4 linked regions of the Homo sapiens genome follow. The protein of the gene in region 1 interacts with the protein of each later gene in a pairwise test. Each region holds a gene or a part of one and is shown in the gene's direction. Other genes may lie near its edges.

Evidence for each region. The genes of interacting proteins can lie anywhere in the genome.
Region 2: the proteins of PKN1 (region 1) and CEP70 interact in binary tests that used the Homo sapiens proteins (3 or more experiments, as listed by UniProt).
Region 3: the proteins of PKN1 (region 1) and DYDC1 interact in binary tests that used the Homo sapiens proteins (3 or more experiments, as listed by UniProt).
Region 4: the proteins of PKN1 (region 1) and UBR2 interact in binary tests that used the Homo sapiens proteins (3 or more experiments, as listed by UniProt).

The regions. Positions count from the first base shown.
Region 1 is NC_000019.10:14,464,306-14,467,805, forward strand, and holds part of PKN1 (serine/threonine-protein kinase N1), read left to right. Parts: intron 1-3,259; coding exon 3,260-3,336; intron 3,337-3,412; coding exon 3,413-3,488; intron 3,489-3,500. UniProt on the Homo sapiens protein: PKC-related serine/threonine-protein kinase involved in various processes such as regulation of the intermediate filaments of the actin cytoskeleton, cell migration, tumor cell invasion and transcription regulation.
Region 2 is NC_000003.12:138,503,761-138,507,260, reverse strand, and holds part of CEP70 (centrosomal protein of 70 kDa), read left to right. Parts: intron 1-1,795; coding exon 1,796-1,966; intron 1,967-3,383; coding exon of another isoform or gene 3,384-3,425; exon of another isoform or gene 3,426-3,500.
Region 3 is NC_000010.11:80,353,956-80,357,968, reverse strand, and holds the start of DYDC1 (DPY30 domain-containing protein 1), read left to right. Parts: upstream 1-1,213; 5' UTR 1,214-1,257; exon of another isoform or gene 1,258-1,709; intron 1,710-3,485; exon of another isoform or gene 3,486-3,608; intron 3,609-4,013. UniProt on the Homo sapiens protein: Functions as part of axonemal radial spoke complexes that play an important part in the motility of sperm and cilia. Plays a crucial role during acrosome biogenesis.
Region 4 is NC_000006.12:42,675,529-42,679,028, forward strand, and holds part of UBR2 (E3 ubiquitin-protein ligase UBR2), read left to right. Parts: intron 1-527; coding exon 528-663; intron 664-1,254; coding exon 1,255-1,345; intron 1,346-3,010; coding exon 3,011-3,141; intron 3,142-3,500. UniProt on the Homo sapiens protein: E3 ubiquitin-protein ligase which is a component of the N-end rule pathway.

The DNA.
Region 1 (3,500 bases):
GCCCAGATCCCCATCCTGGTTAAAAAACTGCTCATGCCTATAATCTCAGCACTTCTGGGAGGCTGACATGGGAGGATTGCTGGAGCCCAGGAGTTTGAGACCAGCCTGGGCAACACAGTGAGCCACTGTGAGCCATGATCCTGCCACTGCACTCCAGCCTGGGCAACATAGCGAAATACTATCTCAAAAAACAAAACAGGCTGGGCACAGTGGCTCACACCTGGAATCCCAGCACTTTGGGAGGCTGAGGCGGGTGGATCACTTGAGGCCAGGAGTTCAAGACCAGCCTGGCCAACACAATGAAACCCCGTCTCTAATAAAAATACAAGAATTAGCCGGGTACGGTGGTGGGCACCTGTAATCCCAGCTACCCGGGCAACTGGGGCAGGAGGATCAGTTGAACCTGAGAGGCGGAGGTTGCAGTAAGCCAAGATCATACCAATTGCGCTCCAGCCTGGGCGACAGAGCGACTCCATCTCAAAAAATAAAAATAAATAAAACTGTGAGCTCAGCGGCTGGACCCCCTGGGTTCCCACCCCTGCCGTGCCACCTCTTGGCTCTGCGCTTCACCTCTGTGCCTCAGTGTACCACTTTGCAAAACGAGCATATTTAAAACTCATGTCAATGATAGAATGATCGAGAGAGTGCTGTTCTCTAGGCAGAGGTTACCGCAAGCTGGGAGCCACAAGGGGACCTGCCGGGTGATGGAAATGTTCCTTATCTTGATCTCGGTCAGAGGTCAGCACGCGTTTTCCAGAAAGGGCCAGAGAGTCAATATTTTTGGCTTTGTGGGCTAGACAGTCCCTGTCTGCTTTGTAGTTTGAAAGCAGCCACAGACGATATATGTACACTGTAAGCGTGTCTCTATTCCAGTAAAACCTTATTGGTAGTACACGCGGAAGTTTGAACATTGTAGAACTTTCATGGGCAATGAAATATTATTCCTTTTTTTGTTTTTTTTTATTCCCCCAACGATTTAAAAATGTAAAAATCAGTTTACCTGTGGTCCCAGCTACTTGGGAGGCCGAGGCAGGAGGATGACTTGAGCCCAGGAGTTGGAGTCTGGCCTGAACAACATGGCAAAACTCCATCTCTTTTTTTTTTTTTTTTGAGATGGAGTCTCACTCTGTTGCCCAGGCTGGAGTGCAGTGGCGTGATCTAGGCTCACTGCAACCTCTGCCTCCCAGGTTCAAGGGATTCTCCTGCCTCAACCACCCGAGTAGCTGGGACTACAGGTGTGTGCCCACCACACCCAGCTAATTTTTGTATTTTTAATAGAGACGGGGTTTCACCTCGTTGGCCAGGCTGGTCTTGAACTCCTGACCTCAGATGATCTGCCCACCTCAGCCTCCCAAAGTGCTGGGATTATAGGTGTGAGTCACCATGCCCGGCCACTGCATCTCTTAAAAAAAAAAAAAATAGTGAAAGCCATTCTTAGCTCTTACAAACTATAAAAACAGGCTGGCCCACCAGCCAGCATTTGCCAACTCCTAGGCTGGCTGATGGTTTCCTGGGTGGATGCATATGTAACCTGTTCCTCTTGCCCACCTCACTGAATGCATTTTATTTATTTATTTATTTTGAGACAGAGTCTCACTCTGTCGCCCAGAATGGGCGTTGGAATGCAGTGGCGTGATCTCAGCTCACTCCAATCTCCGCCTCTCAGGTTCAAAGATGCCCATGCCTCAGCCTCCCTAATAGCTGGGACTACAGGCATGTGCCATCATGCCCAACTAATTTTTGGTTTTAGTAGAGATGGGGTTTCACCATGTTGGCCAGGCTGGTCTTGAACTCCTGACCTCAAGTGTTCTCCCCTCTGCAGCCTCCCAAATTGCTGAGATACAGGTATGAGCTACTGCACCCAGCCTGAATGCATTTTATCTTTTATCTTTTTTTTTTGAAACGGGGTCTCGCTCTGCCATCCAGGGTGGAGTGCAGTGGCGCAGTCATGGCTCGCTGCAGCCTCGACCTCCTGAGCTCAGGTGATCCTCTCACTTCAGCCTCCCAAGTAACTGGGACTACAGGCGTGCACCACCACACCTGGCTAATTTTTTATAGATCTAATTTTTTAGAAAGTAGAAGTAATGGGTTGGGCATGGTGGCTCACGCCTGTAATCCCAGCACTTTGGAGTCAAGAGATCAAGACTATCCTGGCTAACATGGTGAAATCCCATCTCTACTAAAAATACAAAAATTAGCCGGGCGTGGTGGCGCACGCCTGTAATCCCAGCTACTTGGGAGGCTGAGGCAGGAGAATTGCTGGAATCTGGGAGGCGGAGGTTGCAGTGAGCTGAGATCACACCACTGTACCCCAGCCTGGGCGACAGAGTGAGACTCAGTCTCAAAAATAAAAAAAATAATAATAAAAAATGGACATTGTCAAGCCAGGCATGATGGCTTGCACTTGTAGTCCCAGCTACTCAGGAAGCTGAACGAAGAAGATCGCTTGAGGCCAGAAGTTTGAGACCAGCCTGAGGAACAGAACAAGACCCCATCTCTACAAAAATTAGGCCGGGCGCGGTGGCTGACGCCTGTAATCCCAGCACTTTGGGAGGCTGAGGCAGGTGGATCACCTCAGGTCGGGAGTTGAAGACCACCCTGACCAACATGGAGAAACCCCATCTCTACTAAAAATATAAAAAATTAGCCGGGCGTAGTGGTGCATGCCTGTAATCCCAGCTGTTTGGGAGGCTGAGGTAGGAGAATCACTTGAATCCGGGAGGCGGAGGTTGCAGTGAGCGAAGATCACACCATTGTACTCCAGCCTGGGCAACAAGAGTGAAACTCCATCTCAAAAAAAAAAAAAATGAGCTGGACGTGGTGGTGCATGCCTTTAGTCCCAGCTACTCAGGAGGCGGAGGTAGAGTTGGAGGCTGCACTGAGCTATGACTGCGCCCCTGCACTCCATCCTGGAAGACAGAGCAAGACCCTGTCTCTAAAAAAAAAAATTCAGGTTGGGCATGGTGGCTCACGCCTGTAATCCTGGCACTTTGGGAGGCCGAGGCGGGTGGATCACCTGAGATCAGGAGTTCCAGACCAGCCTGGCCAACATGGTGAAACCCCGTCTCTACTAAAAATACAAAAATTAGCCAGCCATGGTGGTGCAGGCGTGTGGCTGGAGGAGAGTGAGTGAGGGGCTGCGTGGGAGGAGAGGTGAGGACAGAGAGGTCGGGGGCAGATCTTGCAGGGCCTCGGAGGCTGCTGTGGTTATGAGGGCATCTCTGACTCCCCTTACTCTGGCCTCCTCTCTCCGCCACAGAGCTCCCCCATCCAGGAATCCACTGCTCCCGAGCTGCCTTCGGAGACCCAGGAGACCCCAGGCCCCGCCCTGTGCAGGTGACACCACTCCCTGGCCCCCTGTCCACCACCCCTGCCCGCTGTCCTTGTTCTCACCAGTGGCCTCTCTCCACAGCCCTCTGAGGAAGTCACCTCTGACCCTCGAAGATTTCAAGTTCCTGGCGGTGCTGGGCCGGGGTCATTTTGGGAAGGTGAGGTGGAGG
Region 2 (3,500 bases), on another chromosome or scaffold:
GTTGTGTATTTTTAAATTTAGCTCTTGCATATTTCTTGTTAGGAAATACCTTGTTATTTCCTAGGTATTTTATAACTTTTATTGCTATTGTAAATGGGAACCAAGCACCTTTCTGAAAACTGTTTTGTTTTAGACTTTCTTGTACCAGTATATAACTGGATTTCATTTTGTTTCTGAGACTCAATTTGAGAGGCTTTGTCCTTTAAAAGGGGAATTCAAGCCGGGTATGGTGGCTCATGCCTGTAATCTTAACACTTTGGGTGACCGAGGCAGGAGGATTGCTAGAGGGCAGGAGTTTGAGACCAGCCTGGGCAATATAGTGAGACCACATCTCTAGAAAAAAAAAAATTTAATTAGCTGGGCATGGTGGCTTGTGCCTGTAGTCCTAGCACTTGAGAGGTTGACATGGGAAGATCACTTGAGCCCAGGAATTCAACGCTGCAGTGAGCTCCGTTCACACCACTGCACTCCATCTTAGGCTGCAGAGTGAGACTCTGTCAAATAAATATATAAAACAAATATACATACATCAATTTGAAGTGAAATATTGAATTATACTAATTTGGACTTAAAAAGCTTCTAAATAAACATCTGAAGTAATAAACATCTTAAGTCATATTACCAGGAGGCCTATTAGTTATATCTTGAAGTATGACCAGGGACAAAGATTCAAGAGCAAAATGCTATCTTTATATTGTGAAACTTTTTATTAAATAGGCTGAACTTGATGGTGGTAATAGGAAATGGCTTTATTCTTCTCTCTTTAAACATGCTTTTTGAGGTCTCCCTTTTTTTCCTCGGATGATATGTAAGGTAGAACCCATCACTTATGGGGAGAGGGTTATAGTCAAATAGTATACTATCTTAATATATTAAGATACCTAAAATTCAATCCAGGCATCAATGATATTATTTTTGGAGACAGGGTCTTGCTCTGTTGCCCAGGCTGAAGTGCATTATCATAGCTCACTGCAGCCTTGAATTCCTGGGCTCAAGTGATCCTCCTGCCTCAACCTCCCAAAGTGCTGGGATTACAGGCATGAGCCACCACACTCAGCCTGGGGATTGCTGTTAATTTCCTTAAATAGTCTGATAATGTTCTTGTGAGTTTGTAGGAGAATATGCCTACTTTTAAAAGATGCATGCTTTATTATTTGAGGGTGAAGAGTTTCTTCAAATGGTTCACCTAAAAATATAGATAGTGAGCAAATATGGCAAAATACTAACAATTTTTGAACCTAGGTAGTGTTTGTAATAGTTAATTTTGTTTCAACTTTACTGCGGCATAGGATGCCCGATATTTGGTTAAACATTATTCTGGATGTGTCTGGGAAGGTGCTTCTGGATGAGATTGACATCCGAATCAGTAGACTTTAGTAAATCAGACTGCCTTTCCTAATGGGGTGGGCCTCATCCAATGATTCAAAGCCCTGAGTAGAACAAAAGGCTGAATAAGAGGGAGCTCCTCCTCCCTGACTGCTTTCAAGATGGGACACTGGTTTTTTTCTTGCCTTCAGACTCAAACTGAAACATTAGCACTTGCAGGGGTCTCAGTCTGCCTGCATTTGGACTGCAAATACCCATTACCTTTTCTGGGTCTTCGCTTACTCACTGCAGATCTTGGGACTTGTCAGTCTTCATAATTGCATGAGCCAATTCCTTATGATAATTTTCTTTGTATATTTAATGAAATATGTGTATATAATATATATAGACATAAAGCACTCCTTTAAAATATATAACTTTGTAGGCATAGGATAAATATTTTGACTATATACACTATGTTTTTTTAAAGGTGCTGTGTAGCATCAATTCAATTATCCACAATCCAAGAGCTCCAGTAATAATTTATAAACAGACCAAAGGGGGAGTCCAAAATTTTAATAAAGATCTTGTTCAAGATTGTGGATTTGAGCATCTTGTTCCTGTAATAGAAATGTGGGCAGATCAACTGACATCCTTAAAGGTAAGGGGTTGACTATGATTATATGCTTTGAACATCTATTGGACTCTATGTGCTTTATTAATAGGACTTAATTCAGGGCTAAAAATTAAATAGGGTTTAATTTTTTTGTTTGTGTGTTAACTCTAAAGCTAAAAAAGCTTATTATCTAAAACCGAAATCTTCCTACTTACATATCTATTTTAGGTACTGTCTATTTGATGTTGTCATTACTGTAAGCTTTACCTCCTCTAAGATTCTACCAAACAAGAAATTTTGGGGTTAGTTTCCTTATTGAAAATCTATAGTGGATCCACTTTGTACTTCTAGGCCCTTCCCTGTTCTACCTTCATCTGCCTCCTTTTCATATCTCCATGCTGCGATTTTCCTGGCCCTTATCCCTCTTCAGATATAATGTCTTATCCTTCATTTTATTATAATTGGGGATATTTTCTCTCTCTTCACACTTTATTTTCTGTCTCTCAGAACTGAGCTTATCTCCATTTCTGCTTATTCTCTAGAACAGATAGTAAGCTAGCAGCCAACGCTACCCTTCCCTATCCTATCTCTTCATGGAAGACCACATTTTATTTATAGAGTTATTGTGTATTTATTGCATAGCTTCAGGTTTTTTCAGTTTTTGTTAACTAGTTTGCTGAAAGGTAAATAGTTGAAATCAGTAGTATTTAACTTCTTTGCCCTTTACACTTTAGATTTATTAGTAACTAATATAATACATAGCATATGCCTGTTAATGAAAATGTGATTCAATAACAGTGTTTGCAACATAAGTCTTATTACATGAAGTACAAATGATGCAGAAGATATCTGTTAAGAATGTATAAGCTCCATGAAGACAGTGTTTTTATTTGTTCTGATATGTCCCCAAGATCCTCCTGATGAATGAGTGCTCAATTAATATTTGTTAAAAGGAATGAAGCAGAATATTATATTCCAAGACAACAAAATTGGGGGTGGTGATGTTAATTTTTTTTAAATTTCGACTTCCCTTTTTATATAGGGCTCAGACAGAGCTATACAATACATAAACATTTTGATTGAGTGACAGTGCTAGATTAATATACTTACTTTATAGACCGGAGTTCCTCCAGTCTGTATCTCAGAAGAGTGTAAAATAATTAGTAATAGTGTAAATCATGGTATTTCCTCAATCACTGCCTGTCAGAGGGTTCTCCCAGTAGGAGGAAACAGTGCTGACTCCACCTTTCTTCATCTCAGAAGGGATGGACTAGAAAAAGCCCTAGCCTTCCTAGAAGAAAAGACTAGAAGAGGAAGAAGACAAAGGGAAGAATCACACTAATGGATAGTTATTGATCGTTTATCATGCTAAGCCATTATGGGATGAACACAAGATTCAGACTAATTAGACAAAATATACTAAAAAATATGAAACAAAATGTAATCATTTATATCGTTAAAGGAAATGAGTGACATAAAAATAGATTACCGGTTGAAGTTCTGAGTGAATGATGCAGATAACTTGTGCTCTAGAGTCTGGAGGAGAAAGAGAACACTCTGATTGTAGCCCCCAAGAAGG
Region 3 (4,013 bases), on another chromosome or scaffold:
CTCAGTAGGCAAGGTGATAAGAATAGGGGTTGTCTTTGTTTACTGTATACCGCCCACGCTTGGCACACTGGGAGCTCTGTAAATATTTCTTGACTTATTCATTGAGAGAGTTCTGCCACCTGCCCTCATGCTTCCCTTTGATTTTTCCACGCCCAATCTGGCATTTACTAGCTCAACTAACATCTATTAAGGCCTCTCTTGCCTGGCACTGCCCCGCCCATAAGCTGAAAGAGAGCACAGGAAAGGCTAGCACATGCACAGACGACTAGGCCAGGGAAGACTGCAAGGGTTTGGGCCTGGTGGAGACTGGACGGCTTCCCGGTGGTGGGGCACCCGAATTGGTTCTGAAAGGAACCAAGCAGAGGTCACCAGCAAGAGCAAAGGTGCAGAGTTGTGAAACTGCCAAGCTATTAGCAGCTTGCAGTGACGGTCTTCCAGGGACTCTGGAAGGTCTTCCACCCTTTTCCGATTGGCTGCCCTTCCTGGTTCCTCCTCAAAGCCCGCCACCTCTTTGTCTCTCCCAGAGCATGCCGGGCTGCCAGTCAGGGTCCCTTGCTCTTTTGTGTGCCCCTACTCCTCCAGGTTTCTGTGTAGCAAGTCTCCTCGGCTCACCCACCCCGCGCGCCTCCACATACGCCTTTCCTCGACCCCTCACGAGCACACGCCCGTCCCGCGTGCCCGCTCCTCTCTGCCTCCCGCCCCGATCCTACGCTCCCCCTCCTCCCTGGACCCCGCCCCCTGGAGCGCGCCCGCTTCTCTCTGCCACGCTCCCCTTCTTTCATTCCCTCTCCTCTCTGCCCGTTGCCCCCTCGTGCGCGCTCTCCCTCCTGCACACCGCCTCATCTCTGCCGCAGGCCCGACTCCTGAACGCCCCCTCCTCTCTGGCCCCCTCCCCTGGCGCGCGCCCCCTTCCGCACGACCCCTTCTCTCTGCCGGGCGCCCCGCGCCTGCACGCCCCCTCCTCTCTGCCGCGCCCCCTCTACTCTGCGGCGGGCTCCTACTCCTGCACGCCCCCTCCACTCTGCCGCGCCCCCTCTACTCTGCCGCGCCCCCTCTACTCTGCCGCCTGCTCCTACTCCTGCACGCCCTCTCCTCTCTGCTGCGCGTTCCCCCTTCGCTGCCCACCGCGTGCCCTCTGCTCACCTATCCGCGCGCCCCTTCCGCTTTGCGGCGCCTACACTGGCTCCTGAGGCGCGAGCTCTCGTTGCCTGGCAACGGGACGCCGCTCCTGGGTGGCGAGCAGGCGCGTGTGTAGGGGTGAGCGCACCGGAAAGGCCCGAACTGTTTTTGGGATTTGTTCCCCTAGCTTCGCTGGGTCCGGCGGGCAGAGGCGGTTCTGACCGTTGGGCCTTGGGCGTCGAGCAGGACTCACCTGAGGCGGAGAGAGGCCGCTTCGCGCCTGGGGCTCCCGAAAGCGGCCAGCTGTCCTCCTGCTCCCCCTGAGCGGGGAGCGCTGCGTCTCCTGCGGGCTGCGGGAGACCCTTCCAGACTCCCGGGTGGGAAAACCACACTGAGCGCCCCGGGAGGTTGCCAGATACAATACTGTATCTGGCACCCCTGCCCGGGTGCCCCCGCCCAGTTGGCTGGCTGGCTGGCTAGCTGTCTCCCAGGTGTGGGTAAGGAATCTCCTTCCATCTCTGTGGCACCTTCTTCACGCTGGAGGCAGCTGTTTCTGTGGGAAAGGGCTTTCTTATGTTGAGCCAAGATGCCTATTGGTGTATGTGAAAAATAACATTGCTTACCACAGGAGAGATGGGTATTATCCTCGTTTCACAGACAGGAACATGCTAAGGGAGTTGGCAGGCCTTGCCTGGGTCCCACTGATATGCCCAGAAATCCGAGACAGAGCCTCCCCTGACCTGGCCCCGCTGGTAGGCCAGAAGTTTTCTCTTTAGGGATAATGGTCCCCTTCCTCCCTTCCCACATTTTATCCTTCTGGAGCAGCAACAGGAGTCTGTGCACCTTTTTTTTTTTTTTTTTTTAACTTCACTTCAAATGACTTTGAGATGTCTGTGTAGCGTTTTGGTCTTTCAGGTATATCCTACTGAAGAAATACAGTGAAGATACTGTGTTCCAAAGTCAGTTGTAATAATTCTTTTCTCTGTATGGTTGAGACACCAATATCAACCTCATTTGGAATTAGGTTCATTTGTGCCAGTTTGTTTTCCGTTTTTAGAGTTTTTATGACTATGTTTACATATACACACATACACATTCCTTTCCCCACTGCTGTTGCTAATACAAAAGATGACAGACCATATACAATTTCAGCACCTCGTTTTCTTTATTCTGTGTCTTAGAGATCACTCTCTAGTTTCTTCATTCTCTTGTACATCTGCATAATAATCCATTGTGTTGCTCTTATTAATCCCCAATTTGATGAACATTTAGATGGTGCTTCAGTGTGACTATTGTAAATAATGCTGCAAATAACTGTGTGCATATGCCATTTCATATTTTTGCAACTATATCTTTGAGATAGGATCCAAGAAGCAAGATTGATGAGTCAAAGGGTGAATGCATATGTGATTTTCTAGATGTTGTCAAATTCTCCTCCATAGGAGTTATACCATTTTGCCCTCCCACCACTGTCATATGGCATATGCACATAGTTATGGCATAAAATTTCAGAGACACTGACATCCTGGGGTTCATCCATAGAATAAAAATTGGGGGTTATGGACGGACCCCAGGATGTCACTGTCTCTGAAATTTTATGCAAAATGCTAGATGCATTTGTCCAGGGACAAGTTTAGACACAGTGGCATTCTATCCCCTGTAATTGCCATGCTCATTCCTATATCAGGGCCTTTCCTCATACCTAGAAGACTCTTCTCTTCTTTGTCGTGTTAATTTTACTGTTTTTTTTTTTCAGTAAATGTAAGCTTAGCTCAAATGTCACCCCCAAAGAAGCTTTTTTTTTACTTTCCTGACTTGATCAGCTACTCCTCTTGTCTGGTCTCATAGTACTTATTTTAACTGCAATTTCATATTTATTGATTTAAATATTTATCTTCCTTTCTCATCTATAAGCTCCATGAAGGCAGAGACTGTTTTTGTTTTAGTTTGCGCTGCTGTAGCAAATTACCAACACTGGGTGGCTTAAAAACAATACACATTTATTTCTCACCATTCTGGAGGCTGGGAAGTCTAAAATCAAGGCATTGGCATTTCTGGTGTCTGGTGAGGACCCTCTGGCTGGTGTGCAGGTGGCTGTCTTCTAGTTTTATTCTCAGATGGCAGAGAGTGAGAGCACGCTCTCCCATCTCTTTTTATAAGGGCATTAATCCCATGCATGACGGCTCCACACTAATGATCTAATCACTTCCCAAAGGCTCCTAATACCATCACATTGGGAGTTAGGATTTCAACATATGGATTTTTGGGGGACACAGATATTCAATTCACAATAGTTTTGTATTCCCAGTACCTATCATGGTGCCTGACCTATAATAGGTATTCTTTTTTTTTTTTTTTTTTTTGAGACGAAGTTTCACTCTTGTTGCCCAGGCTGGAGTGCAATGGCACAATCTCAGCTCACTGCAACCTCTGCCTCCCGGGTTCAAGTGATTCTCCTGCCTCAGCCTTCCAAGTAGCTGGGATTACAGGTATGTGCCACCACGCCCAGATAATTTTGTATTTTTAGTAGAGACAGCATTTCACTATTGTGGCCAGGCTGGTCTCGAACTCCTGACCTCAGGTGATCCACCCACCTCAGCCTCCCAAAGTGCTAGGATTACAGGTGTGAGCCACTGTGCCCGGCAAATATTCATTATACATTTGTTTAACAATTGATTACATTTCATCAGATTCTCAGGAAAAAATATATATATATATATTTTTTTTTATATATGAGACAGAGTCTCACTCTGTCGCCCAGGCTGGAGTGCAGTGGCACGATCTTGGCTCACTGCAAGCTCCGCCTCCCAGGTTCACCCCATTCTCCTGCCTCAGCCTCCCAAGTAGCTGGGACTACAGGCGCCCGCCACCACGCCCAGCTAATTTGTTTGTAT
Region 4 (3,500 bases), on another chromosome or scaffold:
AGTGCCCATCAAGAGTCCTGTAACTCAAGTCATTTCATGTAGCCAGTCCTATTGGATTTTCCAACATGGATGCCCTTTCTTTAAGAACAAAGATTTCTTAAAGGGAGGAGCTGAACTCAGGAGGGATCACAGTAAGAAAATGGAAATGTGACCAGGCGCGGTGGCTCACGCCTGTAATCCCAGCACTTTGGGAGGCCGAGGTGGGCGGATTACCTGAGGTCAGGAGTTCGAGACCAGCCTGGCCAACGTGGCAAAACCTCATCTCTACTAAAAATACAAAAAGTCGGGCATGATGTTGCACGCCTGTAATCCCAGCTACTCAGGAGGCTGAGGCAGGAGAATCGCTTGAACCCAGGAGGTGGATGTTGCAGTGAACCGAGGTTGCGCCATTGCACTCCAGCCTGGGCAACAGAGTAAGACTCTGTCTCAAAAAAAAAATCAAAATAAAAGTAAAAGTAAGAAGATGGAAATTTGCTTAGCTGTGAAAGGAAAGGCGATCTGTCTGATGTCCTGTGTTTGGTGCCTAGGTGGGCTTGGTGCTTGCATTTCCTGCGTTGCAGTGTCAGGATTTTTCAGGGATCAGCCTTGGCACTGGAGACCTTCACATTTTCCATCTGGTTACTATGGCACACATCATACAGATCTTACTTACCTCATGTACAGGTAACTCTTGCCTTTTTGTCAGTTTCTTGAAGGAAATACTTGAGTTTTCTGAGTTTTAAAAAAAGTATTAGAGGAAAAGGTATTTGGATGAGAATAACACATGAATAAGGCTGTTTTTTTCTGTGTATCTTCATATGAAAAGTTTTGAAACATTTCTTTCTCCTCTTAAAATTTCCTAGTAATGTGAATGTTTCTAGTTTTAATTTCATACATTCAGTAATATTTGTGTAGAATAGTAATTAAATCTTTTAGAATCTTATGTTTTAGAATGCCAATTTTGTTTTAACTTACATGTTTGTTAATGCCCACATGAATTCATCATTAAATTACGTTTTGCATTCAAAATTCTTGTTTTTCATACACTTTAAGACTATATTTATTTGATTTTACTTAAAACATGCCAGCTGGCTGTTTGGTTTGATTGAGATCAATACTGTGCTCCCACTTGAGGGATTACAATTTTGCATGTTTTCTAGGAATACTTCATGTTATATGTGAGTTTATGAATATATTTGCATGCTTAATGTCTTCAGTCCTTTTGATAACACTTAATTGGAAAATACAGAGTACTAGTATTTCCTTATCTTTCAGAAGAGAATGGCATGGATCAAGAAAATCCCCCTTGTGAAGAAGAATCAGCAGTTCTTGCTTTGTATAAAACACTTCACCAGTATACGGGAAGGTGAGTTAGTTATCTTTACATAACGCATTTCCCTAAATATTGCTAGATGATGATAGCATGAGAAAGGAATTCGTTTGTTAATTAGGGGAATTTGTTGTCTGTTGACATGTTTTTAAAATAAGACGTGGAGTGATCTGCAGAGCCTTTCTGAACTATTCATATACTAACATAATTGGAAATCTGGGAGAAAGGTGATAATATGCAGAGCTTCCCACATTTATTTGGCTGTGGAACCCTTCATTTGCTCAGGGATCTGGCAGAGACTAGAGGATAGATCAAATGTACTTTGGAAAGTTGATACTCTAAAACTTATGTTGTCTCATTCAGAATGGGAATTTAAAACTGCAAGTTAAATTGGCATAATTTATTTTTAAGGTAATATTCAGTAGTAGCAGGAATAAAATGAAATTATTAGAATTCCATGTATGGTTAGAGTCATGATTTGCTACAAATAGCAATTCAGTAGTTTGCTTAGCTTTCAACAGTATATATGTCAAGAATCTGTAGTCAGGAACCTATAAAAATGTCTGTTTTTTGACTATCCCATTTCTGAGAACCTACATTAACAAAATAATTCAACATATAGAAAAAAAACATATAGGCATATAAAGATGGACACTCCAGCCAGGCACGGTGTCTCACCCCTATAATCCCAGCACTTTGGGAGAATGAGGCTGGCAGATTGCTTGAGCCCAGGCATTTGAGACCAGCCTGGCCAACATGGTGAAACCCTGTCTCTACCAAAAAATACAAAAATTAGCCAGGCATGGTAGCATGTGCCTGTGGTTCTATCTTCTCAGGAGGTTGAGGTAGTCAGATCACCCAGGCAGGTGAAGGCTGCAGTGAGCCATCACACCACTGCACTCCAGACTGGACAAAAGAGTGAGACCCTGTCTCAAAAAGAAAAAGATGTACACTCTGATATTATTTATATTAGCAAATAATTGAAAGCAATCTAAGTGTTTGCAGGGGAATAGTTTGATATAGTGATGAATGTGTTCCAAAATATTATAAATCTATTTAAAATATGGCTCCTAGGAGCTGGGTGCAGTGGCATGTGCCTGTAGTCCCAGCTGCTCAGGAGGCTGAGGTGGGAGGATTGCTGGAGCCCAGTAGTTTGAGTCCAGCCTGGACAACTTTTCATTTTCCACATTTTCTCTTTATGTCACTATGTTACTTTTATAAATTTTAATAACATCACACCTGTAATCCCAGCACTTTGGGAGGCCAAGGCGGGCAGATCACAAGATCAGGAGATCGAGACCATCCTGGCTAACACAGCGAAACCCCGTCTCTACTAAAAATACAAAAAATTAGCCGGGCGTGGTGGCAGGCACCTGTAGTCCCAGCTACTCAGGAGGCTGAGGCAGGAGAATGGCGTGAACCCAGGAGGCAGAGCTTGCAGTGAGCCGAGATTGTGCCACTGCACTCCAGCCTGGGCGACAGAGCGAGACTCCGTCTCAAAAAATTTAATAACAGCATTGGAGGCTGTGTCACCACTTACACCTGGCATCCTATAATAACACACACCCACTTGCCTGTTAACTCACAACTTTTAAGCATACATGCCATCAGTTCCAAATGACAGTCAAGTCTGTTTTCACACTATAAGTACAGTGACCTTTTCTTAGTAGATTTCCCAATAATCTTTTTTTTCTTTTTTAGTGCCTTGAAAGAAATACCATCCGGCTGGCATCTGTGGAGGAGTGTCAGAGCTGGAATCATGCCTTTCCTGAAGTGTTCTGCTTTATTTTTTCATTACTTAAATGGAGTTCCTTCCCCACCCGACATTCAAGGTAATTTATACTTTCTTTCAAAACGTAGGGAGAGTTAGTAATCCTTTACTCCAGCAAATATAAAGATCACTTGCAAAAATGAAAATTGACTAAAAGTTCAAAGAATAGCTTATTGACTATGGTGATGTACACATTTATAGCATAAAATGTATGTTTATGCATATGTCTCCATTTATTTGGATCTCAGTAAATGACTGTTAAACTTCTGTGTAAATGTTTTTACACCTGCAAAGCCCTTCTCCCGTAAAGATCATAGTTTTGCTTTCAGATGTTAAAATGTTCAGTTATGTATTATTCATAAACAAGGTTCCTCAGATTTGAAAAGGTGAAAACTGACAATTTCAAGTGATTTTTAACTT